2 separate regions of the Homo sapiens genome follow, and region 1 is linked to region 2. Evidence: fine-mapped expression QTL. A gene starts in region 2. The other region holds a variant in brackets. All regions are shown on one strand. Distances are between the middles of the regions.

The links. PIP is the estimated chance that this variant, and not a neighbour inherited with it, causes the effect.
Region 1: its variant is fine-mapped to the expression of CPAMD8 in hippocampus (GTEx, PIP 0.94).

Annotation. Positions count from the first base shown.
Region 1 is chr19:16,994,976-17,011,071 of GRCh38, forward strand. CPAMD8 (C3 and PZP like alpha-2-macroglobulin domain containing 8) reads right to left here. Exons shown (of 42, transcript NM_015692.5): 6 at 14,328-14,345; 7 at 13,530-13,584; 8 at 9,298-9,411; 9 at 7,291-7,375; 10 at 5,439-5,547; 11 at 2,136-2,363. Among named protein-coding and RNA genes, the nearest start is that of CPAMD8, 24 kb to the right of the region's middle. The variant A/G (reference allele first, on the strand shown) is at 7,842.
Region 2 is chr19:17,017,802-17,033,897 of GRCh38, forward strand. CPAMD8 (C3 and PZP like alpha-2-macroglobulin domain containing 8) reads right to left here and starts at 9,009. Exons shown (of 42, transcript NM_015692.5): 1 at 8,750-9,009; 2 at 4,229-4,380; 3 at 2,530-2,552. The coding sequence starts at 8,841. RefSeq lists an enhancer at 9,181-10,089.

The DNA.
Region 1 (16,096 bases), 23 kb before region 2:
CTTTCTTGAATGCAGATGGTAGGTATTTTCTGTCATATGTGAAACGCTCTTTACCAAATTTGTAGCCTTAAACCTCTTCTTCATACACATTCTGACCCCGCACGAGGTACTTTAGTTTCTACTCAAGCTGGGGCCCTCAAAGCCAGGGACACAGGAGATGTGTCTGTGCATGGGATAGAGGTGGCTCCAACACTGGCATGGAGAAGAGAAAGGAGGTTCCAAAGCAGAACAAGAGGGTCAGAACTCAGTGTTAGGACAGCCAGCCAGCATCACTCATGGACGGCAAAAGGGAACTGGGTGCAGACAGATGCAGGGCCAGGGATGTGGCCCACTTTCCCCTTGCATGACACTGGGCTCTGTTGGCCTTGCCCCACTCCTGCTGCTGCAATTGGGGTGAAGATGCCCCAGGTTTGTTTTTGTTTTTTGTTTTTTGTTTTTTTATTTGAGACGAAGTCTCACTCTGTCTCCCAGGCTGGAGTGCAGTGGTGTGATCTTGGCTCACTGCAACCTCCGCCTCCAGGTTCAAGCAATTATCGTGCCTCAGCCTCCTGAGTCACTGGCATTACAGGTGTCCACCATCATGTCTGGCTAATTTTTGTATTTTCAGTAGAGACAGTATTTCACCATGTTGGCCAGGTTGGTCTTGAAGTCCTGACCTCAGGTCATCCGCCCACCTGGGCCTCCCAAAGTGCTGGGATTATAGTCATGAGCCACCGTGCCCAGCCTACCCCAGTTTAACAGTTAAAATAAGAATAATGACTGGGTGTAGTGGCTCACATCTGCAATCCCAGCACTTTGGGGGTCTGAGGTAGGAGATCTGCTTGAGCCCAGGAGTTCAAGACCAGTCTGGCCAACACAGCAAGATCCCATCTCTACAAAAAATTAAAAAATTGACTAGGTGCGGTGGCTCCTGTTTGCAATCTCAGCACTCTGGGAGGCTGAGGCAGGTGGATCACCTGAGGTCAGGTGTTCAAGACCAGCCTGGCCAATGTGGTGAAACCCCGTCTCTACTAAAAATACAAAAATTAGTGGGGTATGGTGGGGCATGCCTGTAATCCCAGCTACTCTGGAGGCTGAGGCAGGAGAATCACTTGAACCCAGGAGGCAGAGGTTGCAATTAGTCGAGATCATGCCACTGCACTCCAGCCTGGGCGACAGAGCGAGACTCTTGTCTCAAAATAAATAAATAAATAAAAATTTAAAAATAAAAAAATTTGCTGGGCGTGGTGGCTCATGCCTGCAGTCCCAGCTACCCAGGATGCTGAGGCAGGCGGATTGCTTGAATCCAGGATGTCGAGGCTGTGGTGAGCTATGATCTCACCACTGCACTCCAGCCTGGGCGACAGAACAAAACCCTGTCTCTAAGAAGAAAACATATATAAGGATCATGACATCTGGACACCTCAAAATTTACCGTGCATAAGACTTGAGTGGTGGGTGGGAGGCAGAGGCTCGTTCAAAATGTCACATGGGTCTGCACCTGTCAGTCTCAGGAACAGAAGGTCTACCTTTGCAGGGCTCTCAACTTAGGTCCTCAGGGGATAAAATCAACCCAGTGAAGGGCCAGGAGTGATGGCTCACGCCTGTAACCCCAGCACTTTGGGAGGCCAAGGCGGGAAGTTCACTTGAGGCCAGGAGTTCGAGACCAGCCTGGCCAACATGGCGAAACCCCGTCTCTACTAAAAATACAAAAATTAACTGGGCTTGGTAGTATGTTCCTGTAATCCCAGCTACTTGGGAGGCTGAGGCAGGAGAATCACTTGAACCTGGGAGACGGAGGTTGCAGTGAGCCGAGATGGAGCCACTGCACTCCAGCCTGGGCGATGGAGTGTGACTATCTCTAAAAAAAAAAAAAAAAAAAAAGAACCCATTGAAGAAACAGGACTGCCTTAGAGCAGTTGCTTTAATAAATGGCTACTCAGATGTCTGTCCAAGTGGAATAGAGTAGATTGTCCTTTCCCGTGGAGGAAAATGTCCCCTGCCCCTCACCTGGAACACCAGCCCTCTCCACTCTCCGCAAAGGTTATGTCAGGGGATCCGTTTTCAGCTGAGTCACCACTGCAGAGCTAGTGGCTAGTGGTGGTGGTTTCACGGTGGTCCTTGGGCGGGAGGCAGCACAGTCACCCCCAAGTTACCTTCCCCACGTAGGCCAGGCCCGGCTTGAACTGCTTCCTCGTGTCCTTGGAGTACCGGATGTCCACCAGCTGCCTCTGCACGGGGGTGGAGTCATCGAACGCGACCTGCTGGCTCCCGTCCACACTGGTCACCATGGCCCAGATGCTGACCCTGCCCCGGAAGTGCTCAGGGACGTCCGCTGGGATCATGTCCCTCACGCAGATGTCGAAGTCCCGGGAGCCGAGGATCTGGAGGGAGGAAAAACACAGCCCGTGCTCACTCAGGGTTGGAGTGTCTTTGAGGGATGTCCCTGAAACACACACCTGAGGTGCAAGACTCTTCAGCTGCTTGGAGGGCCAGGGGTCACTTGGTGGCATACCCAATCTATGCCACGGGACCATGCAGAGGGTCCCTCACTGGATCTGGACAACATCCCAGGGAAGATGGATGTTGGCTCCATTGGGCAGAAGAGGAAAGAGGCTGGGTGCGGTGGCTCACGCCTGTAATCCCAGCACTTTGGGAGGCTGTGGCGGGCGGGTCACTTGAGGTCAGGAGTTCGATATCAGTCTAGCCAACATGGCGAAACCCCGCCTCTAGTAAAAATGTAAAAAAATAGCTGGGCGTGGTGACAGGCACCTGTAATCCCAGATACTTGGGAGGCTGAGGCATGAGAATCGCTTGAACCCAGGAGGCAGAGGTTGAGGTGAGCCTGAATTGTGCCACTGCACTCCAGCCTGGGTTAAGAAAAAAAAAAAGAGGAAAGAGATTCCCATGCTGACACAATCTCCCACAGCCCAGGCAACAGAGGGGGCAGCTGAACCTGCTCAGCCTCACTCTGGGGCACCAGAACTCCCTCATTCAATTCCTATCTCAGGATCCCACCCTGGGACTTGGCAAATAATCCTCATTCAGAAAGAGCTGTGGAGTAAATTACTCCGTAAATGAGAGAACTAAGTCAAAGACCATCAGCTGGTAGCCTCCCAGGAGAATGGCTGGGATTCTCCAAGGTGCCAGTGTCAGGAATGGGAAAGGTAGGGGTTTATGGTTTCCAATCCATGGAAGAGAAGCCTCAGAGAGCAGAGAGATGGGCTGGGTGTGATGGTGCACACCTGTAATCCCAGCACTTTGGAAGGCCAGCAGCGGCAGATCACTTGAGGTCAGGAGTTCAAGACCAGCCTGGCCAACATGGCAAAACCCTGTCTCTACTAAAAATACAAAAATTATCCCAACACGGTGGCACATGCCTGTAATCACAGCTACATGGGAGGCTGAGGCAGGAGAATTGCCTGAACCCAGGAGGCAGAGGCTGCAGTGATCCAAGATCGTGCCACTGCACTCCAGCCTGGGAGACAGAGAGAGACTCCATCTCAATAAATAAATTAATTAAATTAAATTAAATTAAAGATATCTCAGACATAAGAGAGGGGAGCCCATTGGAGCAGATGTGTCTCAGGTGGGAAAGGGACTGAGAAGGAGCTTTGGGTGGGAGGTGGGGAGGAGCCGGTGCTGAAAGGCTTAATGTCCGGGCACCTACAAAGGGATGGGAATCTCCAGGAAGGTGGGTGTCTGTTGTACTGTAGCCCACTCACAATGTAACATTATGCTGAAAGACCAAAAAAGGTTACAAAACTTTAAACAGGTGGGAATATAAAATAGTGCAGCCACATTGACCATTTGGCAGTTCCTCAAAAGGTCACACATAGTGTTACCCTCTGACCTAGCAATTCCGCTCCTAGGAAAGAACCCAAGAGAAACAAAAATGTAGGTCCACAGAAAAACTTGCACAGGGATGTTCATAGTAGCATGAGACATAATAGCCAAAAAGCAGAAACAACCCAAATGTCCACCAGCGGATGAAGGGATAAACACATTGTGGTCCATCTGTACCAGGGAATATGATGCAGCCATAAAAAAGGAATGAAGCATTGATCATGCTACGATGTAGACAAACATCAAAAACATGATGCTGAGTGAGAGAAGCCAGACACAAAAGGACATATAGCATATGATTCATTCACAGAAATGTCCAGAACAGGCAAATCTACAGAGACAGAAAACAGATAGTAGTTGCCAGAGACAGGAGGAGGGAAATGAGGATTCTCTGCAAAAGGACATGAAGGATGTATGGAAGGATGGTGGAACAATTCTAAAATTGGATAACAGCCATGGTTGCACAACTCTGCAACTATATGAAAACCATCAAGCTGTGGCCAGGCGCAGTGGCTCACGCCTGTAATCCCAGCACTTTGGGAGGCCGAGGCAGGTGGATCACGACGTCAGGAGATCGAGACCATCCTAGCTAATACAGTGAAACCCCGTCTCTACTAAAAATACAAAAAAAAAAATTAGCCGGGTGTTGTGGTGGGCACCTATAGTCCCAGCTACTGGGGAGGCTGAGGCAGGAGAATGGCATGAACCCAGGAGGCGGAGCTTGCAGTGAGCCGAGATCACGCCATTGCACTCCAGCCTGGGCAACAGAGCAAGACTCCATCTCCAAAAAAAAAAAAAAAGAAAAGAAAACCATCAAGCTGTACACTCTACATGGGTGAATTGTATGCTATGTGAATGATATCTCAATAAAATTGTTTATGTTTTTATTTTATTTTAGAGATGGGATCTCACTATGTTGCCCAGGCTGGCCTTGAACTCCTGAGCTCAAGAGATCTTCCTGCCTCTACCTTCCAAATATTAAGAGCTGGGACTCCAGGCAATAAAATTAGTGTTTATTAGTGTTTTTTTGTTTTTTGTTTGTTTTTTGAGATGGAGTCTCACTTTGTCGCCCAGGCCATGGTGGTCAGGCTGGTCTCGAATTCATGGCCTCAAGTGATCCGCCCGCCTTGGCCTCCCAAAGTGCTGGGATTACGGGTGTGAGCCACCATGCCCAGCCAAATTGGTGTTTTTTTAACTTTACTTACAATAACCTGTGAGGAAACACATCAAAATATCGATAGTGGTCATGTCCACCTATTGGAGAACAAGTTATCTTTATTTTCTTCCTTTTTATATTTTCTAAAGTCTCTATATTCAGCCTGCAGGAATTTTATCATCAGAAAAATCCCTGCCATATAACTGTTTTAGAAAGTAAAACAGCGGTGGCTCACACTTGTCATCCCAGCACTTTTGGGGGCAAAGGCGAGAGGATCGCTTGAGCCCAGGAGTTCAAGACAAGCCTGGGCAACATAGTGAGATCCTGTCTCTATTCAAAAACTTTTTAAAGGCAGTAAATAAAATAATAACAATAAGAGAAAGTAAAATAAAATGTGTGCTGGTGGAGGTGAACCTGGGGGTTGGGTCAGGGGGTAGAAGGGGTCCCTGTTTCTCACCTTGGTTGTTCTGAGGACAGGGCGTCCCACCTCGTGGCTGTAGTACCCTACACCATTAACAGTCATGTTGATCATTAAGGCACCAGCCACAGGTTTCCCAAAGGTATACCTGGAACAAAAGGATAAAGCATGCTCAATTTCACAGCCAAGATGGCAGGGAGGGCCCAGCCTCAGGAAGGCCAGGTTGACATAGTGTGGCCACTAGTACAGTGATGGATGCAGCTCCCTCCACACCCTGCATCCTGTCCTGACAGCCCTCCCTGCAGCCTGGAATCGGGACAGAAGATGCCAAGGCCCTCCGATCCTCTGCACCAAGCCTCCAGATGGACAGAAAAAGAGACCAAGGGTCAGAGAGGAACTCTGGAACTGAGAAGGCTAGGTTGGTGCCACCTCTGGAGCAGAGTAGTGCAGAGGCATGAGCGACTGAGAGGCACCTGAGCCTAAGCGCCCTATTAAGCTCGACTTTGAACCAAGGACCGAACTTCTCTGAGCCTGTTTCCTCACCCAGAGAATGGGACTCAAACTACCCTCTCAGGGGTGATAGTGAAACTTAAATGTCTGTATGTCACTCCTGATGCAGAGGGAATGCTGGTGGATGGGGAACAGGAGCAAAATGAGAGAGTGCAGGCTGGGCATGGTGGCTTATGCCTGTAATCCCAGCACTTTGGGAGGCCAAGGTGGGCAGATCACTTGAGGTCAGGAGTTCGAGACCAGCCTGGCCAACATGGTGAAACTCTGTCTCTACTAAAAATACAAAAATTAGTTGGGTGTGGTGGCACATGCTTGTGATCCCAGCTACTAGGAGAAGCTGAGGCAGGAGAATCAATTGAGCCCGGTAGGCAGAGGTTGCAGAGAGCTGAGACTGTCACTACACTCCAGCCTGGGCGACAGAGTAAGACTCCGTCTGAAAAAAAAAAAAAAAAAAAAAAAACAAGGATCAACCCCTCTCGGGTCAGCACACTGGCGGGGGTGCTGTTGGATGCCAGGGAGGCCTGCAGAGGGCGGGGAGCAGCCTTGGGGGAGAGGGGAACATGGTGGGGTTGGGAGGGTCACACCCTGGGGGGTAGGGCATTCTTTGGGGAGGGGAGACCCTTGGGGAGGGAAGAACTTAGAGTGGAAGGGCAGGACTTGAGGAAGGAATACACAGCGGGAGAGGGGCATGCTTTGGAGAGACAGGGGCGTGCTCATAGGGGTGAGGACACCAGCATGGAAACAAAGACAGGCAGTGGGTAGAGTGCAAGAGACTCATGTGGCAGGGAGACACCGAGTACTAGGGAGGGAGCGGGGCACAGGGCACCCTTGTGGGAGCAGGGAGGCCATGGAAGAAGTGTCTGCCTGTAGGAGGAGGGGGAAGCCCGGTTGTTGGGGGAGATGGAAGGGGAGGGCAGAGGAGGGGCCCAGGGGGAGGAAGATGCTCTAGGGAAAGGGGTACACTCCAGGGAGGGGGTGCCCCCAGGGGAGGGGCACGGGAAAGGATGATGCTCTAGCGGGTGGCCACATCCTGGGGAGGGGAACCCACAGGGGAGGAGCCCAGCAGGGAGGGAGATACTTTAGAGGGAGGAGGACACCCCAGGGAGGAGGCGCCCACAGGGGAGGAGCCTGGTGGGGAGGGAGATACTCTAGGGGGAGGGGCACCTCCTGAGGAGGGGGCGCCTACTGGAGAGAGTCACAGGAAGGGAGATGCACTAGGGGAGGGGCACACCCCAGGGAGGAGGGAACCAGGAAGGGAGGGGCACACCCATGTGGGAGGGAGGGAGGCAGCAGAGGAGGGGAACGACCTTGAGGGAGCAGCGTGATGGTTGGGGAAGGGGAAGGGCCCCCCCAGTGTGCCCCAGGGGTCCCTCTTTCTCACCTGGCCCGCACAGTGCCTGTCTCACAGGCGTCCAGGTCTTGGATATACCGGGGCGGGTCAATCAGAAGCTCAAACTTGGGCAACACTGAAGAAAGCAAGCAGAGAGGAGGGGCTGGCTTCTGTCCCTAAGGTGGCCTCAGGAGCCCTGACACCGGTGCAAGGTGTCTGAGGACCACAGCACCTGGCCACCACCGAGGTTGACACTGTACCCATCCACACCACTCTGCTGAGCAGCCCTGGGGATTTTGTGGGCTGCATCTATTTCTCATCTTTGGGGGACTAGGACCCCATTTTCCTCAAGGGGCCTCCCCTGTCACTTTTAGACCACGTGCTTAGAGTGTGGCGGATTCCAGCCTATCCCAGGGTGGACACGAGGCCAGGAGGCTCCTCCTAGCCCCTGTGTCTGTGCATGGGATAGAGGTGGCCCTGGGAGCCAACAAGGGGCATCCCCAGGGTGACTGCAACAGAGAGCTGATTTCTCCATTTGCTTCTGGACTCAGCCCTGGGAGTATCAAGCCATCTTGTCACCAGGGGCGGAGGTGACACCCTGG[A/G]GCAGCCGGTAAACCAGAAAGAATCGGGTCCTGAGAGAACTCTTGTAGGAGCCTAAGAATCTTTTCGTTCTTTCTTTTCTTTTCTTTTCTTTTCTTTTTTTTTTTGAGACAGATTGTCACTGTGTTTCCCAGGTTGGTGTGCAGTGGCACGATCTTGGCTCACTGCAACCTCCTCCTCCTGGTTCAAGCAATTCTCCTGCCTCAGCCTCCCAAGTAGCTGGGACTGCAGGCACATGCCACCACGCCTGGCTAATTTTTGTATTTTTAGTAGAGATGGGGTTTCACCATGTTGGCCAGCCTGGTCTTGAACTCCTGACCTCTAGTGATCTACCCACCTCAGCCTCCCAAAGTGCTGGGATTACAGACGTTAGCTGCCATGCCTGGCCACCTTTTTTTTTTTCTGAGACAGGGTCTCACTTTGTCACCCAAACTGGAGAATAGTGGTGCAATCACAGTTCACTGCAGCCTTGATCTCCTGGGCTCAAGCAATCCTCCCGCCTCAGCTTCCCGAGTAGCGGGGACTACAGGCACGTGCCACCATGTCCAGATAATTGTTTTAAAGTTTTATACAGACAGGGACTATGTTGTCCAGGCTGGTCTCAAACTCCTGGCCTCAAGCGATCCTCCAGCCTCAGCTTCCCAAAGTGTTGGGATTACAGGTGTGAGCCACCACCATGCCTGGCCTACAATACTTTTTTCTATAAAAGGCAAGAGTCCACTTTGGGAGGCTGAGGCGGAAGGATTGCTTGAGACCAGGAGTTCTAGACCAGCCTGGGCAACATGACGAAACCCTGTCTCTACTAATACAAAAATTAACCAGGTGTGGTGGCTCACACTTGTAGTCCCAGCAACTCAGGAGGCTGAGGAGGGAGGATCACTTGAACTTGGGAAGTCAAGGCTTCAGTGAGCCAAGATCGCACCACTGCACTCCAGCCTGGGTGATGGGTGTGAAACCCTGCCTCAAAAAAAAAAAAAAAGTAAGAGTGTAGGACCATCCCCTGAAACTATACCCAGCCATCATGAGCCCTCAGTAAACGGGGACTCATGTCATCCTCCACCTCTTCACTGCCATCTTCACCAGTTTCCTTTTCTTTTTCTTTTTTTTTTTGAGACAGAGTCTCGCCCTGTCGCCCAGGCTGGAGCGCAGTAGTGCGATCTTGGCTCACTGCAACCTCTGCCTCCCGGTTCAAGTGATACTCCTGCCTCAGCCTCCCAAGTAGCTGGGACCACAGGTGCGCGCCACCACGCCCGGCTAATTTTTGTATTTTTAGTAGACACGAGGTTTCGCCATGTTGGCCAGGCTGGTCTCAAACTCCTGACCTCAAGTGATCCGCCCACCTGGGCCTCCGAAAGTGCTGGGATTACAGGCGAGAGCCCTTGCACCCGGCCTTCTTCACCAGTTTCTAAGGTTTCTCCCAGATCTGAAATCCCAAGACCCTGAGATTCTCCAACTTACCATACTTCTGAACTTCAAAAGACTTGTTGTACGCGTGGCCTTGCATTTCAACAAAAATGAACCATTCTCCCAACACAGGCTGGTCGGACAAGGGGAAGCTCATGTTGGTGATGCCTGTGTGAAGAGAGAGGGCAAGGGCTTTTTCAGAGAGCCACAGACACGGTGAGGTACGGGAAGAGGGAGCCAGGACCCTGCTCCTTCTCCTTCCCTGAGCAGCCCCCCAGGAGAACTGGAGACCACAGAGAAGCTGGCGGGGTCTGTGCAGAGCAGCACCCTGTAGGATCAGGCCAGCGGAGCAGGTTTGACACCCCGGCGGGCTTCGAAGGGATGCAGGAAGGGACTGGACCCGCGGTTCCCGGGACAGCCTTGCAGCCAGGGCCAGGGGCAGGCAGTGAGCTGGACAAACGAGGGAAATGAGCCAGCCCGGCTCATTCACTCCATCCCCCGCCACCCGAGTCATTTCCAGCCTGGGCACTACTGACACCTGGGGCCACGTGGCTCTCTGGGGTGGAGGTGTCCTGTGAGCTGTAGGATGCTGAGCAGCACCCCTGGCCTCCACCCAACAGATGCCAGTAGTACCAATGCCCCCCACAATATAACGACCTAAAAAAGTCCCCCAGATACTGCCAATATCGCCCCTAGGGGGCAAAATCACCCCTGGGTGGAAATCCCAGAGAGAGAGAGAGACAGACAGAGAGAGAGAGAGAGAGAAACAGACAAGACAGACAGGGTCTCCTGCCAGGATAGGGTTTCTCAGCCTCAGCACTACTGACATTTAGGGCCAGATCATTCATTGTGGTGTGGGGGCATCCTGTAAACTGAGGGGTGCTGACCATCATCCCTGGCCTCCACTCACCAAAGGTCAGTAGTACCAATGCCCTCTACAATATAACAACCTAAAAAAGTCCCCCAGACATTGCCAATATCGCCCCTAGGGGGCAAAGTCACCCCTTGGTGGAAATCCCAGAGCACTGAGGGGTGCTGAGCATCTTCCCTGGCCTCCACTCACCAGATGCCAGTTGCACCCCTTGTCCTCCACAAAAGTCCTGACAAGCCAAAATGTCCCCAGACATTGCCATGTCCCCTGGGGGCAGAATCGCCTGTCCGACCCCCCACCCCTCCATGAGAACCACCCCCCAACTGAACTAGAGCACGCACACACTTTAGAACAGAGCACTCTCTCCCCAAACATCCCCCCAGAAACACCATCAGCCGCTGACATGGGAGCTGTCATTTGCTTTGCGCCTGTGCCTCTGAGCCCCGTCCGCAGCTGTTTTCACTGGGAGCCATGGAGGAGTTGGAAAGGGCACATTGACTCTAGGCAGTGCCAGGGGATCTTCCACTCCTGAGTGTGACACGCTCCACTCGTCCCCAATGATCATATGGGGAGGGCCATACAGGGAAGGGACAGGGAGAGTGGTTCCCCTGGGTCTCACGACAGAACCGAAAACCCATAGCGGCGCCCACGGCTTCTCTCAATCACATTGGAGTCAGAAGATGTGATGGCTAAAATGGCTTTTTCCCCCTCATATTCAGGCAAAGTGGGCCTTTGATGGTTACAGGACATTCGGGGATGTGTGTCCTGAGCACGTGTTTTGTAAGGGGTCTGTGGCCAACTTTGCCAAGTGCTCCCTGAGAGAGGGGCACAGTCACCCTGGTTGAGAATCATGGGTCTACACACATCCCAAAGGGTTTTTTTTTTATTTTTTTGAGACAGAGTCTTGCTCTTTTGCCCAGGCTGGAGTGCAGTGGCATGATCTCAGCTCATGCAACCTTCACTCCCGGGTTCAAGAGATTCTTGTGCCTCAGCTTCCTGAGTAGCTGGGACTTTAGGCACCCGCCACCATGTCCAGCTAATTTTGTATTTTTAGTAGAGACAGGGTTTCCCCATGTTGGCCAGGCTGGTCTTGAACTCCTGACCTCAGGTGATCTGCCCGCCTCAGCCTCCCAAAGTGCTGGCATTACAGGTGTGAGCCACCAAGCCAGGCCTCAAAGGGTTTTTTTAAACAGGAGGTTGACCTCTTCCCCAACTCTGTGCTCTTAAGATCAAGTCAGCCTAGGCAACATCTTGAGACCCTGTCTCTACCAAAAATTTAAAAAATTAGCTGGGCTTGGTGGCACGCGCCTGTGGTCCCACCTACTTGGGAGGCTGAGGTGGGAGGATCACTTGAACCCAAGAGGTAGAGGCTGCAGTGAGCTATGATCACACCACTGCACTCCAGCCTAGGTGACAGAATGAGAGAGAACCTGCCTCTTGAGAAAAAAAAAAAAAACTTTTTAAAAAAAGATCAAATCCATTCTCTTCCCTGGCTCTTGCCAGTGTCACCCCTGCTCTCAGCACTCAACATCTCTCTCCTGTCCCCCATCTCCAACCTCACTACCCTAGACATCCACAGCCCTTCCCATAAGTTGACTCCCTGCCTGGGAGATGCTTCCTGGCCCCCTTGCTTTGCCTGGCTGTCCCCCGTTCCTTCTTTGTTGCTGAAAAGGATCCTCCTTCAGGCAGCCTTCCAGGATTGCCTCTGCCACCCCGGGCTGGGATAGAGCCCCATTTGCCATCTCTGAGTTTTGAACTTCTCCTTCCTAGCACTCATCACAACTGACATTATCCAGGCTGTTTAGTTCATGTTTGCTTCCCCCATTGGGTTGAAAGCTCACCCCATGGCAGTATCTATGTGGCGCCCAACAAATAGCTGCTGATACAAAGACAGCAATCAAGGGAACGAGAGGGAGTAAAGAAGGCAGACAGGGAAGATGGAACAGAAGAAAAGAGGCTGAGGCCAGGCACGGTGGCTCATGCCTGTAATCCCAGCACTTTTCCGAGGCCGAGGCGGGCGGATCACCTGAGTTTGGGAGTTCAAGACCAGCCTGGCCAACATGGTGAAACCCTGTGTCTACTAAAAATACAAAAATTAGCCAGGCCTGGTGGCACGTGCCTGTAATCCCAGCTACTTGGGAAGCTGAGGCAGGAGAATGGCTTGAACCCGGGAGGCGGAGGTGGCAGTGAGCCGACATCGTGCCACTGCACTCCAGTCTGGGTGACAATAGCAAGACTGTATTTTAAAAAAAAAGAAGAAGAAGAAAAGAAAAAGGAGAAGGAGGAAGAAGAAGAAAGAAGAAGGAGGAAGGAGGAAGAAGAAGCAGGAGGAGAGGGGGAGGAGGAGGAGGAAAGAAGAAGGAAGATCGAAGAAGAAGGAGGAGGAGGAGGGAGAATAAGACGAAGAGAAGGAGAAGAAGAAAGAACAAGAAAGAAGGAAGATGAAGAAGAAGAAAAGAGGCTGAGACCCAAGGCAGGAGACAGAAGGAGGAAGGGTCACCAACAGACCCCCGTGATCCTGCCTGTGGCTCTACTGTTACCCCATTTCTGGACAGCCTGGGTGTGTGCATGGCCATCCCCAGACTCCCCACACCCTACCTATCCCCTGCCCTCTCCTGGGGCATCACACCCCTCACAGGCAAAGCAAAGTGGGGTATGTCAATTACACAGTCTTCCTAGTCATAGGAAAAGAAAAGAAAAAAGCAAAGTCCTTTCTGACTTCTAGCTGGAAAAGAAATATCTCATGCAATGGGGATGATAAAATCTGCAACCTATAGCAGGAAGAAGCTGGGAGCAGGCCGGGCGTGGTGGCTCACGCCTGTAATCCCACCACTTTGGGAGGACAAGGCGGGTGGATCACCTGAGAGGTCAGGAGTTGGAGACCAGCCTGGCCAAATGGTGAAACCCCATCTCTACTAAAAATACAAAAATAAGCCAGGCGTGGTGCCATGCACCTGTAATCCCAGCTACTCGGTAGGCTGAGGCAGGAGACGCTCTTGAACCCGGGAGGCAGAGGTTGCAGTGAGCTGAGATTGTGCCACTGCACTCCAGCCTGGGTGACAGAGAGAGACTCTGTCTCAAAAAATAAAAAACAAGGTGAGAGCAGGTGCCCCAGTATTCCACAAAGGTCTTGAGTTCTGAGCAGGAGCCCCGCCTGAGTCCTGGGCATAGAGAAACGTGGGCAGAGGGTCCAAATCCACAGGGAAGGTGCTGTGGGCTGGGCTGAGGCTCCCAGATCCAAACCCATGGCATTGTCACCTCCCAGGTGGGTACCTGCCCTCCGCTCCTCCTTGGTCCCCTCCAGCTGGAGCAGCAGTGGGGGTACATTAGCGGTGGGCCCTGGACAGAGCATATTCTGTTTTCCTGGAAGGTTTATCACATCTGCAGCCCCCAAGCCGCAGAGGAAGAAACTTACCGCAGCAGAACGGCTTTAAGTGTCTCCACTCTATCATCCGAGAGCCTCGGGGGTCCTGTTGGTGGTGGAGGGGGACAGACACACGGAGTGAACTCAGGCTAGCCTAGCATGTGCCCAATGTAAGGATTTTCCCAGTCCTCTCTCTTGGGCATGTCAACCATGCAGCGAAGGTCCCAAGATTAATCATTAACCCCGGGGCAAAAAAAAAGCTCTGGATAGAGAAGGATTTGAAAAGCAGAAGGGGATGGGCTGGGCCTACCTCCTCATTTAGGGAGCCGTGTACAAACCTAGAAATGGACGTGGCTGGGTGTGGTGGCTCACACCTGTAATCCCAGCAGTTTGGGAGGCCAAGGTGGGCGGATCACCTGAGGTCAGGAGTTTGAGACCAGCCTGGCCAACATGGTGAAACCCCCATTTCCACTAAAAAAGATACAAAAAAAAATTAGCTGGGTGTGGTGCCATACGCCTGTAGTCTCAGCTACTCGGGAGGCTGAGGAAGGAGAATCGCTTGAACCCGGGAGGCAGAGGTTGCAGTGAGCCAAGATCAGCACCACTGCAATCCAGCCTGGGTGATAGAGCGAGACTCCATTTCAAAAAAAAAAAGGAAACGGACAGACACACACACAGCCCATCCCAGGGCGGACCCAGGGACCAGGATAGAAGAGGCCAGGTCCCAGCCTTGTAAGGCACAGCGGCTCAACCCAGAAGGCAGACAGTGAGCGAAGACAGACCAGATCTTGCAGAAGGTGGGCTACCCGGGCCCCAAGTCCAAGCCGAGGAAGGACAGAGGCCACTCACCAGGATGTAGGCTTCCAGCTGTAATGAAGACACAGATGCAGTGAGCAAATCTTCCAGCAAACCCCAAACCCTTTCAACATGCTCATGCATGGCCTCGGTCCCCGGGACAGGCAGTCGCTGTTATGGGTTAAACAGTGTCCCCCTAGATTACATCCGTTGAATCCTAACCCCAAGTAGGGTCTTTAGAAAGACTCATTACAGGTGGCTCATGCCTGTAATCCCAGCACTTTGGGAGGCCAAGGCGGGTGGATCACGAGGTCAGGAGATTGAGACCACCCTGGCTAACACCGTGAAATCCCGTCTCTACAAAAAATAGAAAAAATTAGCCGGGCATGGTCGTGGGTGCCTGTAGTCCCAGCTACTCGGGAGGCTGAGGCAGGAGAATGGCATGAACCCAGGAGGCAGAGCTTGCAGTGAGCGGAGATTGCGCCACTGCACTCCAGCCTGGGTGACACAGCGAGACTCCGTCTCAAAAAAAAAAAAAAGAAATGGGGAAACCAGGCAGGCACTACTTGAACCACTGGACCCTGTTAATGTCCCCAGCAACACGACAAACCCATGCTGGGTGCCTCCTGATACAAGGCACCGGGGAGGATCCAGTATTGCTTCTGTGGATCCTGCCCGAGATTCACAGACTGAACTTGGTCACAAGGAACCAGGAGACCATCCTACCAAGGGGCGTTCTGCAAAACAACTGCCTGGACTTGCCAAAAATGTCAATGTCATGGAAGACACAGAAAGGCAGTGAGGAACTAATTCAAATTAAAGGAGACCAAGAGACATGATGATCAAATGCAACAAATGACCCACGATCAGATCCTGGACCAGCAAAGAAACATGCTATAAAGGTTACTATTGGAACAACATGGATTTTATATTAGATATTATTATTGTGTCAATGTCAAAATTATTTTCCTCCTCTTTTTTTTTTGGTTTTTCGTTTTTTGTAGAGACAGGGTTGTGCTTTGCTGCCCGGGCTGGAGTTCAAGTGGCACAATCACAGCTCATTGCAGCCTCGAACTCCTGGGCTCAAGAGATCCTCCTGACTCAGCTTCCCAAGTAGCTGGGACTACTGGCACATGCCACCATGCTCAACTAATTTTTATTATTTTAATTTTTTGTCAAGACAGTTTCGCTATGTTGCCCAGAATGGTCTCGGACTCCTGGCCACAGCGATCTTCCTGCCTCAGCCTCCCGAAGTGCTGGGATTACAGATGTGAGACACTGTGCCCAGCCTCAAAATTTTTAAATGTGATGATCCTCCTTGAGTTGTATAAGAGAACGTCCTTGCTCTTAAAGGATACAGGCCAAGTGTTCAGGGCCAGAGAGGCACAGTATCTGTAAGTTATTCTCACATTATTTACCATTAAAATAATTTTGTAAGTATATATACATATACAGACAGAGAGAGAGCGCTAGAAAGAAAGCACATAAATATAGCCAGGTGCAGTGGCTCACACCTGTAATCCTAGCACTTTAGGAGGCTGAGGCGGGTGTATCACCTGAGGTCAGGAGTTTGAAACCAGCCTGGCCAACATGGTGAAACCCCATCTCTACTAAAAATACAAAAATCAGCTGGGCATGGTGGCACACACCTGTAATCCCAACTACTCAGGAGGCTAAGGCAGGAGAATCGCTTGAACCCGGGAGGCAGAGGTCGCAGTGAGCCAAGATCGCACCACTGCACTTCAGCTTGGGTGACAGAGCAAGACTCCATCTCAAAAAAAAAACAGAAAAAAAAATCAGCCGGGCGTGGTGGTGGGCACCTA
Region 2 (16,096 bases):
GGGCAGATCAACTGAGGTCAGGAGTTTGAGACCAGCCTGGCCAACATGATGAAACCCCATCTCTATTAAAAATACAAAAAAATTAGCTGGGCACGGTGGTGCACACCTGTAATCCCAGCTACTGGGGAGGCTGAGGCAGGAGAATCACTTGAACCCAGGAAGCGGAGGTTGCAGTGAGCCAAGATTGCATCACTGCACTCCAGCCTGGGAGAAAAAGCAAGACTGCTTAAAAAAAAAAAAAAAAAGTAAGGCAGGAAGACCACTGTCCTGCAGCAAATAGGCACTAGTGGTATACCTCATACAAAAGGAACTATCTCAGCCTCCATTCTGATCAATGGAGATGGGCGCCTTATAATTTAAAATAATTCTCAATTTAGCCCATTCATTCGTAGACTCCTTTGAGCATGTGGTAAAAGTTAAGGAATAGCTAACCCCCCAAATGCCGCAATTCCAGGGCTTACATAATATCTGAAATCCAAGGACTCCAGTTTGAAAACCCATGTCATAAAATTATTTACATAGTTTGGTACATATAATAATTTAAAAATAACAATATTCAATGTCTGAGAGGCAGTGGAGAAATCTGATCCCTAATGTACTGCAGGTGGTTCCATGAACAGGTACTGCTGTGTATTCCAGGACACAGCAAGACCCAGTGAGAGGCTTGGGTCCTGCTGGTAATTCTTCAATTTGGCTGTTTAGCCTAAAGAAGGCATCCAGAATGCTAATATGGCTTTACATACAAACATTCTGGCGACTTAAGGATTACAGTATCAAAACACTGAAAACAGCCCAGGCAGGGTGGCTCATGCCTGTAATCTCAGCACTTTGGGAGGCCAAGGTGGGTGGATCACTTGAGGTCAGGAGTTTCAGACCAGTCTGGCCAACATGGTAAAACCCCATCTCTACTAAAAATACACACACACACACACACACACACACACACACACACACAAAATTAGCCAGTCTTGATGGTGCATGCCTGAGGTCCCAGCTACTTGGGAGGCTGGGGCACGAGAATCGCTTGAAACCAGGGTCAGAGGTTGCAGTGAGCTGAGATTGTACCATTGCACTCCAGCCTGGGAGACAGAGTGAGACTTCATCTCAAAAAAAAAAAAGAAAAAAAAAACCACTGAAACAATCTAGAAAAAATCTAGCTGGGGGCTTAGCAAACTGATATTTAAGAGGGGTGCAATAGGATGCTGCTTACAATGAAATGGAAATTCCAATTACAGAGACTTGGAAACATGGAAGTTGTTTACAACAGTGTGATAAGAGGGACTAGGAAACACCACGGTGTTTTGTTTTCTTTTGTTATGTTTTGTTTTGTTTTGTTTTTTGAGACGGAGTTTCACTCTGTTGCCCAGGCTGGAGTGAAGTGGTGAGATCTTGGCTCACTGCAACCTCCGTCCCATGGGTTGAGGCAATTCTCCTGCCTCAGCCCCCGAGTAGCTGGGATTACAGGTGTGCGCCACCATGCCCAGTTAACTTTTGTATTTTTAGTAGAGATGGGGTTTTGCCATGTTGACCAGGCTGGTCTCAAATTCCTGACCTCAGGTGATCCACCCTCCTCGGCCTCCCAGAGTGCTAGGATTACAGGCATGAGCCACTGCGCCCGGCCAGTGGTGTGTGTCCTTTAACTGAAACTATGAAAAGAAAATGTATGTGCATGAACAAGAATGTGTGGAAAACATGAAAAAGTGAAAAGTATGAAAACTGGATTATCGGTGGATTTCTCCTTTTCTAAATTTCATTATTCTCTCATTTTTTTTTAAATAGGGCCTCACTCTGTTGCCCAGGCTGGAGTGCAGTGGTGCGATCATAGTTCACTGCAGCCTCAACCTCCCAGTCTCAAGCGATCCTCCTACCTCAGCCTCCCAAGTGGTTGTGAGAACAGGCGTGAACCACCATGCCTAGCTAATGGATAATTTTTGTATTTTTTTTTTTTGTAGAGACAGGATTTTACCATGTTTTCCAGGCTGGCCTTGAATTCCTGGGCTCCAGAGATCAACCCACCTCAGCCTCGCAAAGTGCTGGGATTACAGATGTGAGCATGGCACCCAGCCTCATTATTCATTTTTTACATCTCTTTTTTAAAAATGATTTTTCTCACAACACATGCAATTTCTCTTATTCCATCCCAATTCAATTCTTTTTTTTTTTTCTTTTCTTTTTTTTTTTTTTTTTGGTGAGACGGAGATTTACTCTTGTTGCCCAGGCTGGAGTGCAATGGTGCAATCTCGGCTCACAGCATCCTCCGCCTCCCAGGTTCAAGCGATTCTCCTGCCTCAGCCTCCCGAGTAGCTGGGATTACAGGCATGTGCCACCACGCCTGGCTAATTTTGTATTTTTAGTAGAGATGCGGTTTCACCATGTTGCCCAGGCTGATCTCGAACTCCTGACCTCAGGTGATCCACCCACCTCGGCCTTCCAAAGTGCTGGGATTACATGTGTGAGCCACCACGCCTGGCCCAATTCAATTCTTTATTTCCAAGGTCAGGTTTATGATTTTAAAAATCAACGGCTTACCTTGAGTTTGATTGTCCCTTTATCTAAAAATGAAAATAAAATGAAAAAAGTTAAATCAAGAGCTGTGTTGCCCTGCCTCCCTGAGCTGCAGCCTCACAAACCACAAACTTTCTTAACCCAAAGGGGTTTCATGTGGACAAACACACCCTGGGTCATGCTGGCCTGGACTGGGCCAGGCTAGGACTGGCAGAAGCCAGAGGTTTCCTCCAAGCTGGCACAAGCTGAAGGCCAGAGGGAATGGACAAAGCTGAGCTATTCAGGGCAAAGCTGGCCTGCCTAAGTACTTGATTTACTTCACCCCTGGCTCCTGTCCAAACTAAGCTGTGAGGGGAGTAATGGGAAAACACCAGGGGAGAGGAACAAGGAGAAGGGTGGAGAGAAAGAAGAGGGGACTGAGGTCCCCAGTGGACCTGACTGTTCTCCCATCACCTCTCTCTGCTACCCACACTAAATCATTTGTGCTACTGTACTAGGTTTCTGGCCTCCAGGACTCAATTAGGTATCTATTATTTTTGCCTCCCAGCAACCATTATCCCATTTCCTGCTAACAGATCCTCAATTTCCTTGGACAAGCTATCTGCCCAGCACACAACGCACGTGGCTCCCAAGCTCTCCATCCACCTTCCTGGGACTCTGAGCCAATCTGCATAGGCCTTCCCCCTGGTCACAGTGATTGGTTCAGGGCTGAGCACATGACCCAAAATGAACCAATCAGCATAGGCCTTCCCCTCTGGTCATAGTGATTGGCTCAGGGTTGAGCACATGAACCAAGATAGGCCAATCAGAGGGAATCCTGGGACTTTATCCAGCCATCTTGGGAGACTGGTGCTTCCCCTGATCTTAAGGAGAGACCTGGTTGCATCAAGAGGTAGGGGGAGAAGCTGGCCAGCAATACCAGTGGACTTTCTTTCTAGGTATGAGAGACCACAAACTGTTGCAGAAGCCAACTGGGTTGGGTTTCAGTTGGCTAGCCACCCAAGTCAGGAGTGCCTGGTTCTTCTAGGACTAGAAGGGCTTCTAGAAGGTTCTAGAAGCTTCCACATTTCCACCTTCTCTGGCCACACCTCCCTAAGAGACAAGTGCTGCTTCACTGGCCTTGGAGCCCCTGGCCTTCTCTGTGTCTCCTGTGGCTACATCATTCTCGGCATGAGGAATGAGTCTACCTCCCCTGGGAGATTACAGCTTTCTGAGCCAGGGATCTGCATTCACTATCTTGACCAGGAGGCTGAGGCTGTTGCTGTCTGCATTTGACCAAGGAGTGAAGGGGAGAGACTGGCTGAGGGCCTGAGCTGCACTTAGTAACAGGCCTGTGAGCCCAGGTCTGAGTCTAATGGTTCAGGTGTGCTGGAAACCCAACAAAAGGTCAGAGGGGGGTCATGTGATCTCCTTCAGGTCCCCTGTCCCACCTCTGGTCAAAGCTGACACAGGTGGGTGCCCGTGCTCTGCCCAGATCTGCACCCACAGAACCAGGGCTGCTGAGGACCCATGAGCTGAGCTGCCCATCCTGGGCTTTACTCTCTCTCCATCTGTAGAATGAGGAGAATGCAACCTGTCTTCCCTCCCTCCCTCCCATGCCCCTGGGGATTTAGGGCAGAAGGGAAGCAAAGCAACACCCACACTGCCCCAGCCCTGAAGGCCAGCAAGTGGCTCCACTTTGCAAAAGAAGGGGAAGTCCTGGTCTGGCACCCAAGGGACCTACCCAGGATGGCTCCCTGGCTCTGCACCACCGGCTCACCCTGGGCCACCAGCTGAGCCTGGACCGTGACTTCCCTTGGAGAGTTAAAGATGGTCACGCTGATGACTTCCTCCACGCCCGCGCGAAAAACAGAGGGAGCTGCAATCAAGTAACCCCTGCAGGAAAGGAGATCCGAGGTGAAGTTCTCACCCCAGACCCCTGGTCTCGCTGCCACCACAGCTAGGTCAGGGCTCTCCTCGCAGCAGACTCCTGCCTTTTGCTGACCACACCTGGCTGGCATTGATGCTCTAGGAGTCTGTGCCCCCCCATCAGTTCTTGAGTCCATGGATTGGCTCTTTCACCTGTGAAGTCCCCATGCTGGGTAAGAATCTGGCCTCACTGGATTTTTCAGCATTGCACAACCCCTCTTACTCTCTCTATTCCGGCCTCCAGCCTGTTGACTCAGCTACTTCCTTCTGCCCCAGGACCTTTTTTTTTTTTTCTTTTCCTGGAGACAGAGTGTTGCTCTGTCCCCCAGGCTGGAGTGCAGTGGCATGATCTCGGCTCACTACAACCTCCACCTCCCGGGTTCAAGGGATTCTCGTGCCTTAGCCTCCCAAGTAGCTGGGATTATAGGTGCCTGCCACCACGGCCGGCTAATTTTTGTCTTTTTAGTAGAGGCAGGGTTTTGCCATGTTGGCCAGGATGATCTCAAACTCCTGACCTCAAATGATCCACCCTCCTCAGCCTCCCAAAGTTCTGGGATTAGAGGTGTGATCCACCACGCCTGGCCCTTCTGGCCCAGGACCTTTGCACATGTCATGCCCACTGTCTGAAATACTCTCCTCCACAAGCCAGGTAACCGGCAGGATCCCACTTCATCCTCACGGTGCACCCCGTCCCCCACCACCGTGAGAAGTGCTGACATCAGCCCCATTTAGAAAGTCAGAAAGGAAACCCCAGAGAAGTCAAGTCACCAGCCGCAACAGTGACAGACCAGGATTCTAACTCAGGCGGTCAGACTCCAAAACCTGATAAAAAGAAGCAAAGGGCTTCTTTGCAACATTCATTTTAAGAACAAACCCTGAAAACAAACCATAGGGCCTCAAACAAAAAGAGCTCTGAAAACAATGGAATCAAAGCAGGCCTCTCTTTCCTAAAATCTTCTGATTGACTATGAAGTCACCTCTGGAAGGGAGGCATTACCCCCAGTTTCCCCATGGGAAGTTGATGCTTCAGAAGAATAGGAACATGCACCAGATCACACAGCCAGGCAGAAGAGGGCACTGAGGTGCCCTTAGGGGACCTGACCTGAGGGCCCAGGTCCTCCCCACCTGAGCTCCTGTCTCCCAGTATCTGCAGCCTTCCATGGAAAATTACAAAGGCCCTGTAACCTCATGAAATGCTTACAGTGTCCCCACAATCACCAAGAGCATTATAGCAAAGGCACCACAATTGCAACCATGTAGAATGATGGAAATCAGAAGAAAAGAGGGTAAAGGGGGAAACTGGACCATGCAATGAGATTAGGAGACATTTTCATTTCAATATTTTCTTTTTTTATTTTTATTTATTTATTTATTTATTTTTAATTGAGACTGAGTCTTGCTCTGTTGCCCAGGCTGGAGTGCAGTGGTGTGATCTCAGCTCACTGTACCCTCCACCTCCCAGGTTCAAGGGATTCTTCTGCCTCAGCCTCCAGAGTAGCTGGGACTACAGGCGTGCACCACCACACCCAGCTAATTTTTGTATTTTTGGTAGAGACTGGGTTCCACCATGTTGGCCAGGCTGGTCTTGACCTCCTGACCTCAAGTGATCTGCGCACCTTGGCCTCCCAAAGTGCTGGGATTACAGGCCCACTGCACCTGGCCTCAATAGTGTCTCTAGAACAACCCAACATCCACATGCAAAAAGATGAATTGAGAACATTACCTCACACCATGCAATTAGATTAACTCAAAGTTAATCTTAGTAACAGATCTAAATTGAAGAAGTAAAACTTGTAGAAACACTAGAAGAAAACAAAGGAGAAAGTCATTGCATGCTTAGATTAGGCAAAGATTTCTTGAGTAAGATACCAAAAATAAGATCCATAAAATAACTCACTGATAAACCAAACTTCATGAAAACATCATTACCAATTTTGCATCTCAAAAGACGCAGTGGGTTTGTGTTGTTTCATGCACACGAACAATGGGTTTGGGTTGTTTACTGCAGCCCTGGCCACAGTGTGCACTGACCCTGTGATCATAGTGTGCTACATCTGCCTTGAATAATTACCAGAGTTCAGTCCCCTGGGATCACACATGTGCTGTCCAACTCTAGGACCAACTGGAGTTTGCAAGACCCTGGGTATGTGCTGTGTATTACATAACTCCAGCACTGACCAGGACATGCAATTACCCTGTCCAGGTGTCCTGTCCAGCTCCAGCACTGGAATGTGGCATCCTTTAAAAGGGGAATACTCTTTCTGTCTGGCTCCCAGCTGATCCCTAGAGTTTAGACGGGCCTCACATATAGTACATGGTGAGTGTAGAAGAGAGAGTAAGGAATACGTGTTCATTTTGCTTGGTCACCTTTGAAACTCCTGACAATACGGGTTCAAGTCTTCATCCAACTGCCCAGAGAAACTGACATCACCAAATTAAGTTTCCCTGCCATTCAGAAGTTGCAGCTGTTTCCAGCTGTTGGGATGCTTGCCAGCCATTCACTGTCACACCTGACCCACCCCTAGCATCTGGGCCAACACTGCTTCTCATCCTGCTGGTCTCAGAAGGTCCCAGATTGGGGAAAGGGATGTCTGGGTCAGTGTAGACAGAATTGCTCTTACAACTGCAAACTGTGCTGCTTTCTGGGATCAGAGATTCCTCACACAAAAATCTCTCAGGTGACAGAAGTGGGCATCCAGAGCTATTCCTAAGACGAGATCCTTTGGGCTGGGTGAACCATGCCCCTGGCTTAGAGGCCAGCTAATCTGGAATCCCAGGTCGGTCATTTGGGGACATCTCTTCCCCAGTGTGTCTCTCAGCACAGGGATTCCATGTCACTTAACAGATGGTAAGATCACAGGGTGACTTTAGTCAGAGGAAAACGCCCTGGAGAACTGTTTAAAACTCTCTAACGGGCCAGGCACGGTGACTCACGCCTCTAATCCCAGCACTTTGGGAGGCGGAGGTGGGTGGATCACCTGAGGTCAGGAGTTCCAGAACAGCCTGGCTAACATGGAGAAACCCCATCTCTATTAAAAATACAAAAAATTAGCCGGGTGTGGTGGCACACGCCTGTAATCCCAGCTACTCAGGAGGCTGAGGCAGGAGAGTCATTTGAACCTGGGAGGCGGAGGTTGCAGTAAGCCAAGATCGTGCCATTGCACTCCAGCCTGGGCAACAAGAGTAAAACTCCATCTCAAAACAAAAACAAAAACAAACCCCAAAAACAACAAACAACAAACAAAAACCTCTGTATAAGGCAGGGTCTCTCATTGGAGCCAAGGTCTGTCATGTGGGGCCGCGTCATTCCTTGCAGTGGAAGCTGACCTGCACATCGAAAGCTGTTTACCAGCATTCCTGGCCTGCACCCACTTAATGCCAACACCAAATGCCTCTCCCTATTTGTGACAACCAAAAATACCTCCAGACATTTCCCAGCGGCCTCAGGGAGACAAAAATCCCCCCCAGGGCTGAGAACCACTATTCTAAGGGATGCCAGCTTTGAAAGAAGCATTAGGATGAAAATTTGTAGGGTTCCGATTTCACGAAGCCTAGGAGAGGGAAGTCTGGATGCTCAGAGCGCAGTAGACTGTCTTGCTTTTAAAACTGTGACCAGCAAGGACCAACTACTCACTGCAAATAACGACACCCACCTAGTCTCACTGCTTACCAGTTTTCTGGAAACTCCTAAACAAGGGCTGCTTGAACAAGCCGCCTTCTAAACGCCCAGCTGGACTAAAAGGCTGGTCTTGTGCAGACCAGGGCAGCCCCCCTGAACCCGCAGCCCTGCAGAGCTCACCCGAACTTGCCAGGTTTAGAAATATTCTCTGTGAAGCCAACTTAGCAGTACTCCCCAGCAGTTAGTTAATTCACCTTCTCCCCGCTGTCAACCCACCAGAAGCCTGCAAGCAAACCTCTAGAAAAATGTAGAAGCAAAACAAACACTTCCTCCTCCCTCACCACGCCCACCCACGGGAAAGTGCCCCTTCGCACTCTCCTCCCACTTCTCAGCCAAGACGCTCCTCTTACCTTCATACCTTGGACAACTGGAAATCGCCACCCATGATGACAGCCCGGGTCACACGAAGGGGGCGAGGTGGGGCGGGGGGAGCTGACCTCAGCACCTTTAGCTTTTGGGAGTCCCTGTACCTCCACAGAGCCACTTCGGAAACTTTAGGGCGCCCCCTCCTCAAGACGATTCGGGAACAAGAGGCCAGGTCCAGCCCAGCGCGGAGGCTGTGTGGCCTTGGGCAGGTCGCTGCAACACTCTGAGCCAGTACCCGCGACCCCCACCCCAGAAGGCGACCGACCTCCTCTGTCGCCGGAGGATACTCACGGGGCCTGAGGCTGCGCGGCGCGCACGCCGTCCCGCGCCGACAGCAGCAGGAGCAGGAGCGGGAGCAACGGCCAGAGCAGGGCGCCGCTCATTTTTCGGCTCCTGGGGGGCGCCGCGCCTGGGGAGGGGGCCGGGCCAGGGCTGGGCCAGGGCCAGGGTCCGAGCGCGGCCGTCCTCGCGCCGCCGCCGGGGGCCCTTTGTTCGCAGCCCCCGCGCAGTGCGCCCGGCGCCATGCGCCCCGCTCCGCGCCCGGCCAAGCTGGGGCAGCCCCGGGCCAGCCCCCTCCCCGGACCCGCCTCGTCTCCGGGACCGCCCCGCTCGCCCCGCTCGCCCCGCTCCTGGGCGCACCCTCCCGGGACGCCTGCTCCGCCCATCTCCGGACCCCGACCCGCCCCGATCCCTTCCGGGGATCGTCCCCTCACTTACTCACCGGACCCACCCGGGCCCTGCCCGATTCCTTCCGAACCCGCCTCCTCACCCCCTACCCGGATTCGCCCCCGGATGCCCCCCTCCCCACCAGCCCCGCCTCGGACCCGACCCCCCACCGCCCCCACTCTCCCTCTCCTCTCCACCCAGCGTCCACTCGGAACCTGTCCCTTCCCTGGCCTCTCCCTCCCTCCCTCCCCAGCCAGCCCCTTATGGCCCCCTCCCCGGGCCCGCCCCTCACCAGGGGCCCCTGGGTCTGGACGCCGCCTGCAACCCCGATCCCACAGGCGCCGCCGTGCCCTAAGCCCTGGCCTGTATCTAGTGCCCAGTGCAGTGCGTACAGCCCAAGGAGCAGAGGACCCTTTGGGGAAACAGTCTAGCCAGGGGTCGAACCTCCCAGACTCACATCTGCCCCAGGTCCCTATCTGTGCTCTCTGCTCCCCTCTCCCCCACCCCCACTGTCCACAAATCCCTTGGGCCCGTCCCCTCTCTCGCTGGGCCTCAGAGTCCCCCTTTCCCCTTCATACAGCAGGGGTGGATGGGCACCCCCTTTCTCTCCAAGAGCAGGGTGTCCCCTCCTGCCCCTCCCCGTGTGGCCACCTCAGTGATGGTCCTGCTGTCCTAGGTCCCACTGGCAGGCGGCACATCCTATACCATGTCCAAGTCCTGGACCCCCTCCTTCCAGTGTGGAACCCCCTTCCCCCAGCTACCAACTGCCCTTCTTCTAAAATTCCAGTGCTGACCACACCCCCTCCTGCCCGGAATCCTCGGGGCTCCCTGTTTATTTTACATTTTATTTTTATGTTTTGAGACCAGAGTTTTGCTCTGTTGCCCAGGCAGGAATTTAGTGGTGCAGTCACAGCTCACTGCAGCTTCAGACTCCTGGAGAGTAGCTGGGACTACAGGTGCAAGCCCGCACCCAGCTAATTTTTATATATTTTTTTTTAGAAACGGAGTCGCACTGTGTTGCCCAGGCTGGTCTTGAGCACTGGGCTCAAATGATCCTCCCTCCTCAGCCTCCCAAAGTGCTGGGATTACAGGTGTGAGCCACCACATCCAGCCAGGGCTTCCCGTTTATTGAGACCAAATCTAAACTCTGGCTTTGATGGCAGAGACCTCAGCCTAGTTCCTCCAACACCCTGTTCTTACTCCACTGCCTGCTTCTGCCTAATCTCTGTCTTCCTCTACCTGCCTCCTTTGCCAGTCCAACTCCTGATCCTTCCAGGAAACTCAAGGGAAGCTTCTCTTGCCCCCTCCCTGCCCCTAGGGATGTGGGTCCTCTGGGGGCTTCTCAGCCCTGTCAACAGCCTTTGGACCCAACACTGATCACCCAGGCAGCACCAAGCCCTGGGCTGGGCAATGAGGACCCTGGGACATACAGGACCTGCTGCCACTGAGCACACAACCCAGAGGGGACGTAACTGATGATGGTGTGTTGGTGTGTGTGTGTGCGTGCACGCGCGCAGGGGCCGGAGTAGATTGAGTAGCCGTCTCTCCTGCCTGGAGAAGAGGAGGAGCTGCCTGCCTCCAAGCTCAGACCAGGCCAACCCCAAACAGGCTGCTAAACTCACATGGAGGTGCAAAAATCTAGCACCAAGAAGCAGCATCTGATCTCACCCTCATCATCGAAGTTTGCCCCATGCCACCCCTCCGGGCCCCTCCAGGCCAACTCTGACTCCTACCTAAGCCAACCTCCACTCCTCAGCCTCCAGGCCAGCCTTTGAGCCCTCCGCCTCCCCCTTGACCATTGGGCTCTGGCCACATTTGCTCCTGAGATACATCAGACCCCCACCCACCACCACCATCTTGGGCCAAGGTGCCAGCTGTCCCCTCTGCCTGGGATGCACTTCCCCGTGGCATCACAAGACCGGCTGCTCTCCTCCACCTTCAGGGTTAGCCCGGAGGTGCCTTCCCTGCCTGCCTGGTTTGTAAGGTCTAAAATGTCAGTGCTGCCTTGGCATGGTTGAGCCACACAGGACCACGATGTCCTGACCGACCGTTCAGCTACTCTTGCCAAATATGCCCCCTGCCTGGCAAGAGAAGCTGCTCTCCACCTGGCTGTCTCACCAAGCAACCAGACCAGCTGCACCCCACCCATCAGCCACAGACTTCACTTCCCTAGCTGCTGAGAAGTTATTGAAACAAGCCATGCCCAGTCGTGGTGGCTCATGCCTGTAATCCCAGTACTTTGGGAGGCCGAGGCAGGTGGATCACCTGAGGCCAGGAGTTCAAGACCAGCCTGGCCAACATGGTGAAACCTCATCTCTACTAAAAATACAAAAATTAGCCAGGTGTGGTGGTGCACACCTGTAATCCCAGCTACTCGGGAGGCTGAGGCAGGTGAATCACTTGAACCCAGGAGGTGGAGTTTGCAGTGAGCCGAGATTGCGCCACTGCACTCCAGCCTGGGTGACAGAGTGAGACTCCGTCTCAAAAAAAAAAAAAAAAAAAAAGAAAGAAAGAAACCAATCACATCCTCCCAGGAGAACCAGGGGCTGCCTCACCCTCTTATTACTACAAAGCCTGCTTCCCACAGCCCCTGCTTGTTCATTGTGCTCCCGAGTGCAACCCCTGTGTGGCCTCACACAGTGTACAGGGTCCTCCTCCCGTCATTGTGTGAGAATAGGTGAGCACTAAACTGTAGATCTCACCCACCCAATGTCACATGTTGTATGTTTGGCCATCTCATACTCTTTTTTTTTTTTTTTTGAGACGGAGTCTTGCTCTGTCGCCCAGGCTGGAGTGCAGTGGTGCGATCTTGGCTCGCTGCAAGCTCCGCATCCCGAGTTAACACTTTTCTCCTGCCTCAGCCTCCCAAGTAGCTGGGACTACAGGCACCCGCCACCACGCCCGGATAATTTTTTGTATTTTTAGTAGAGACGGGGCTTCACCATGTTAGCCAGGATAGTCTTGATCTCCTGACCTCGTGATCCGCCCTCCTGGGCCTCCCAAAGTGCTGGGATTACAGGAGTGAGCCACCGCGCCCGGCCTATTTTTTTTTTTTTTAACGGAGTCTCACTCTGTCACACAGGCTGGAGTGCAATGGCGTGATCTCAGCTCACTGCAACCTATGCCTCCCGGGTTCAAGCGATTCTCCTGCCTCAGCCTCCCAAGTAGCTGGGACTATAGGCGCCTGCCACCATGCCTGGCTAATTTTTGTATTTTTAGTAGAGACAGGGTTTCACCATGTTGCCCAGGCTGTTCTCGAACTCCTGACCTCATGTGATCCACCTGCCTTAGCCTCCCAAAGTCCTGGGATTACAGGCATGAGCCACTGTGCCGGGCCCATCTCATACTATTTAGAGCAGCAGTCCCCAACCTTTTTGGCACAAGGGACAGGTTTCATGGAAGACATTTTTTCCATGGACAAGGGGCAAGGTGATGGGAGGGACAGTGATGGTTTTGGGATGATCAAGTGCGTGACATTTATTGTGCACTTTATTTCTATTATTGTTACATTGTAATATAATGAAATAATGATACAACTCACCATCGCGTAGAATCAGTGGAAGCCCTGAGCTGTTGTTTTCCTGCAGCCAGAGATCCTACCTGGGGGTGATGGGAGACAGTGGCAGATTATCAGGCATTAGATTCTCATAAGGAGCATGCAACATAGATCCCTCGCATGCACAGTTTGTAATAGGGTTTGGGCTTCTCTGAGAATCTAATGCTGCCGCTGATCTGACAGGAGGTGGAGCTCGGGCGATAATGTGAGCGATGGGGAGAGGCTGTAAATACAGATGAAGCTTTGCTTACTCATCCAATATCAGACCAGTGTCAGTCTGTGGCCCAGGGGTTGGGGACCCTTGATTTAGATCATGGGTGAATAGGAGCCAATGAGGACACTAGCATGGCCCGGTCATCCAGTTTGACTGCATGGTACACAAAACACAGAGCATGGTCTTATTATTCCATACACATCTGCTTCCTGTCTGTCTTCTTTGGGATGTGAGCCCCCCGTTTGCTGCTGGCCGCAGCCCCTGGCTCAAAGTGGGCACACCTCACACAGATTACTGCCTCATCAGCACACGGGAGAAGGCTCGCTGCTTAGAAGAGTCAGTTGATACTATTCCATGAATTATACAAGCCTGAGTTAACAAAGCCATGACTAAAAACTAAATTATACCGATTTGCAATGAAACACATTATACAGGTTGAGTAGCCAAAATGCATTATCGGCCGGGTGCAGTGGCTCACGCCTGTAATCCCAGCACTTTGGAAGGCCAAGGTGGGTGAATCACTTGAGGTCAGGAGTTCAAGACCAGCCTGACTAACATGGTGAAACCCCATCTCTACAAAATACAAAAATTAGCTGGGTGTCATGGCAGGCACCTGTAATCCCAGCTGCTTGGGAGGCTGAGGCATGAGAATCACTTGAACCCGGAAGGTGAAGGTTGCAGTGAGCCAAGAATGGGCCACTGCACTCCAGCTTGGGCAACAGAGCCAGACCCTGTCTCAAAAAGAAAAAAATGCCTAATCTAAAATGCACTTTCCAAAACGGTCAGTGCAAGAAATGTTCCAGATTTTTAATTTTTCAGATTTGGGGATATTTGCATTATACTTACTGGTAGAGTATCGTGTGTGTGTGTGTGTGTGTGTGTGTGTGTGTGTGTGTGTGTGTGTGTGTAGTCTGGCTCTGTTGCCTGGGCTGGAGTGCAATGGTGCGATCTTGACTCACTGCAACCTTCACCTCCTGGGTTCAAGCAATCCTCCCACCTCAGCCTCCCAAGTAGCTGGGACTACAGGCACATGCCACCACATCAAGCTAATTTTTGTATTTTTATAGAGACAGGGTTTCACCGTGTTGCCCAGCTGGTGTCAAACTTCTGAGCTGAAGTGATCCACCTGCCTCAGCCTCTCAAAGTGCTGGGATTACAGGCATGAGCCATCATGCCCAGAGTATCTTTAATCTGAAAATCTGAAATCTGAAATGTTTTGGTGAGTGTTTCCTTTGAGCGTCATGTTGGCGCTGAAAATTTTTAAATTTTGGAGCATTTGTGGAATTTGGATTTTCAGATTAGAGATGCTCAACGTGTATTAAAAATATGGCTGGGCGAGGTGGCTCAAGCCTGTAATCCCAGCACTTGGGGAGGCCAAAGAGGGCAGATCACTTGAGACCAGGAGTTCGAGACCAGTCTGACCAAGATAGTGAAACCCCATCTCTCCTAAAAATACAAGAAATTAGCCAGGGGTGGTGGTGCATGCCTGTAATCTCAACTACTTGGGAAGTTGAGGCAAGGGAATCACTTGAACCCAGGAGGCAGAAGTTGCAGTGAACTGAGATCATGCCACTGCACTCCAGTCCGAACGACAGAGTGAGACTGTCTCAAATAAAATAAATAAATAAATAAATAGCAAAGGCGCTGAAAGTACTCAAAACTCATCACTTCGTCTTCATTTTACTACATTTTACAATTCTCTGTACTCTTGAGGTTATGCATGGTGAAAATACTCCATAATAACACAGATCTCTTCCTAACTCTATGTTTAGTCACTTCACGCCAGTAGGTTGAAATTACCCATGGGCGGAGTACAGTCACTTCCACTTTATCACTTGTTTTGAAAGCACAAATGTGTTCCGACATGATGGATGCATTAGGAATGATTTGAGCATAAAATCAAATATTGTGTTCACTTATGTAAGATTTTTGTCTGCAAGAAACATTGGGTATGAATGCAGAAAACTGCACCTGGCTGACCCCAGCCACGTAGGAATACACAAAAACCACACCTGCACCCTCTCCAGCATCTCTGTGCTCCCTCAGTGCCTTGCTGTGTGCCAGGAGCCACATCTGTCCCTGTCTGAGGTTACAATATCCCGCCTGATTTCAGATGATCTCCTCCCAGACCTTCACAGTAACTCACAGGCTGCCACCTCCCCATGCCCAGGTCCACAAATGAGCCTTCAGTCTTTCCAAGGCTGATACTGTATTTGTGTATTTTTTTTCTTTTCTTTTCTTTTCTTTTTTTTTTTTTTTTTTGAGATGGGTTCTCACTCTCTTGTCCAAGCTGGAGTGTAACGGCACAATCAGGGCTCACTGCTGCTTCAACCTCCTGGGCTCAAGTGATCCTCCCGCCTCAGCCTCCCGAGTAGCTGAGACCACAGGCATGTACCACCATGCCTGGCTAATTTTTTTGTATTTTTAGTAGAGACAGGGTTTTGCCATCTCACTCAGGCTAGTCTCCAACTTCTGGACTCAAGCGACCCACCCGCCTTGGCCTCCCAAAGTGCTGGGATTATACAGGCGTGAGGCATCGCGCCCGGCCATATTCTTGAAATTCTTAACCATTTGACATTTGTACAATGTCACTACCATTTTTAGTAGGTGCCTATTTTTTTTTTAGGTGTCATTGGTGACATTTGGATGGTTGTGCCCTGACCCGTTTTCCCATGAGCCCTGTGGTTTGATTGTGTGAATTTGCAGCGTGAGGTCATTTTTAGGAATGGCCCTGTTGTGTGAGGGCGGAACTGGCTGCATTAGCCCCATGGTAAGTGGTTGTCAAACATCTCCAAACATGCCTAGGATGAGCAGCTTTGCAGTTTGGATGGGGGACGAGGAAGACCGCAAAGACTGTCCTGTTGTCAATGGGCGTTTTTCTTTTTTTTTCTTTTCTTTTTTTTTTTTTTTTTGAGATGGAGTCTCACCCTGTTGCCCAAGCTGGAGTGCAGTGGCGCGATCTCGGCTCACTGCCAACCTCTGCCACCCGGGTTCAAGTGATTCTCGTGCCTCAGCCTCCCGAGTAGCTGGGATTACAGGCACATGCCACCACGCCCAGCTAATCCAGCTAATTTTTTTGTTTTTTTTTAGTAGAGATGGGGTTCCACCATGTTGGCCAGGCTGTTCTTGAACTCCTGACCTCGAGTGATCTGCCCATCTCGGCCTCCCAAAGTGCTGGGATTACAGGCATGAGCCACTGCGC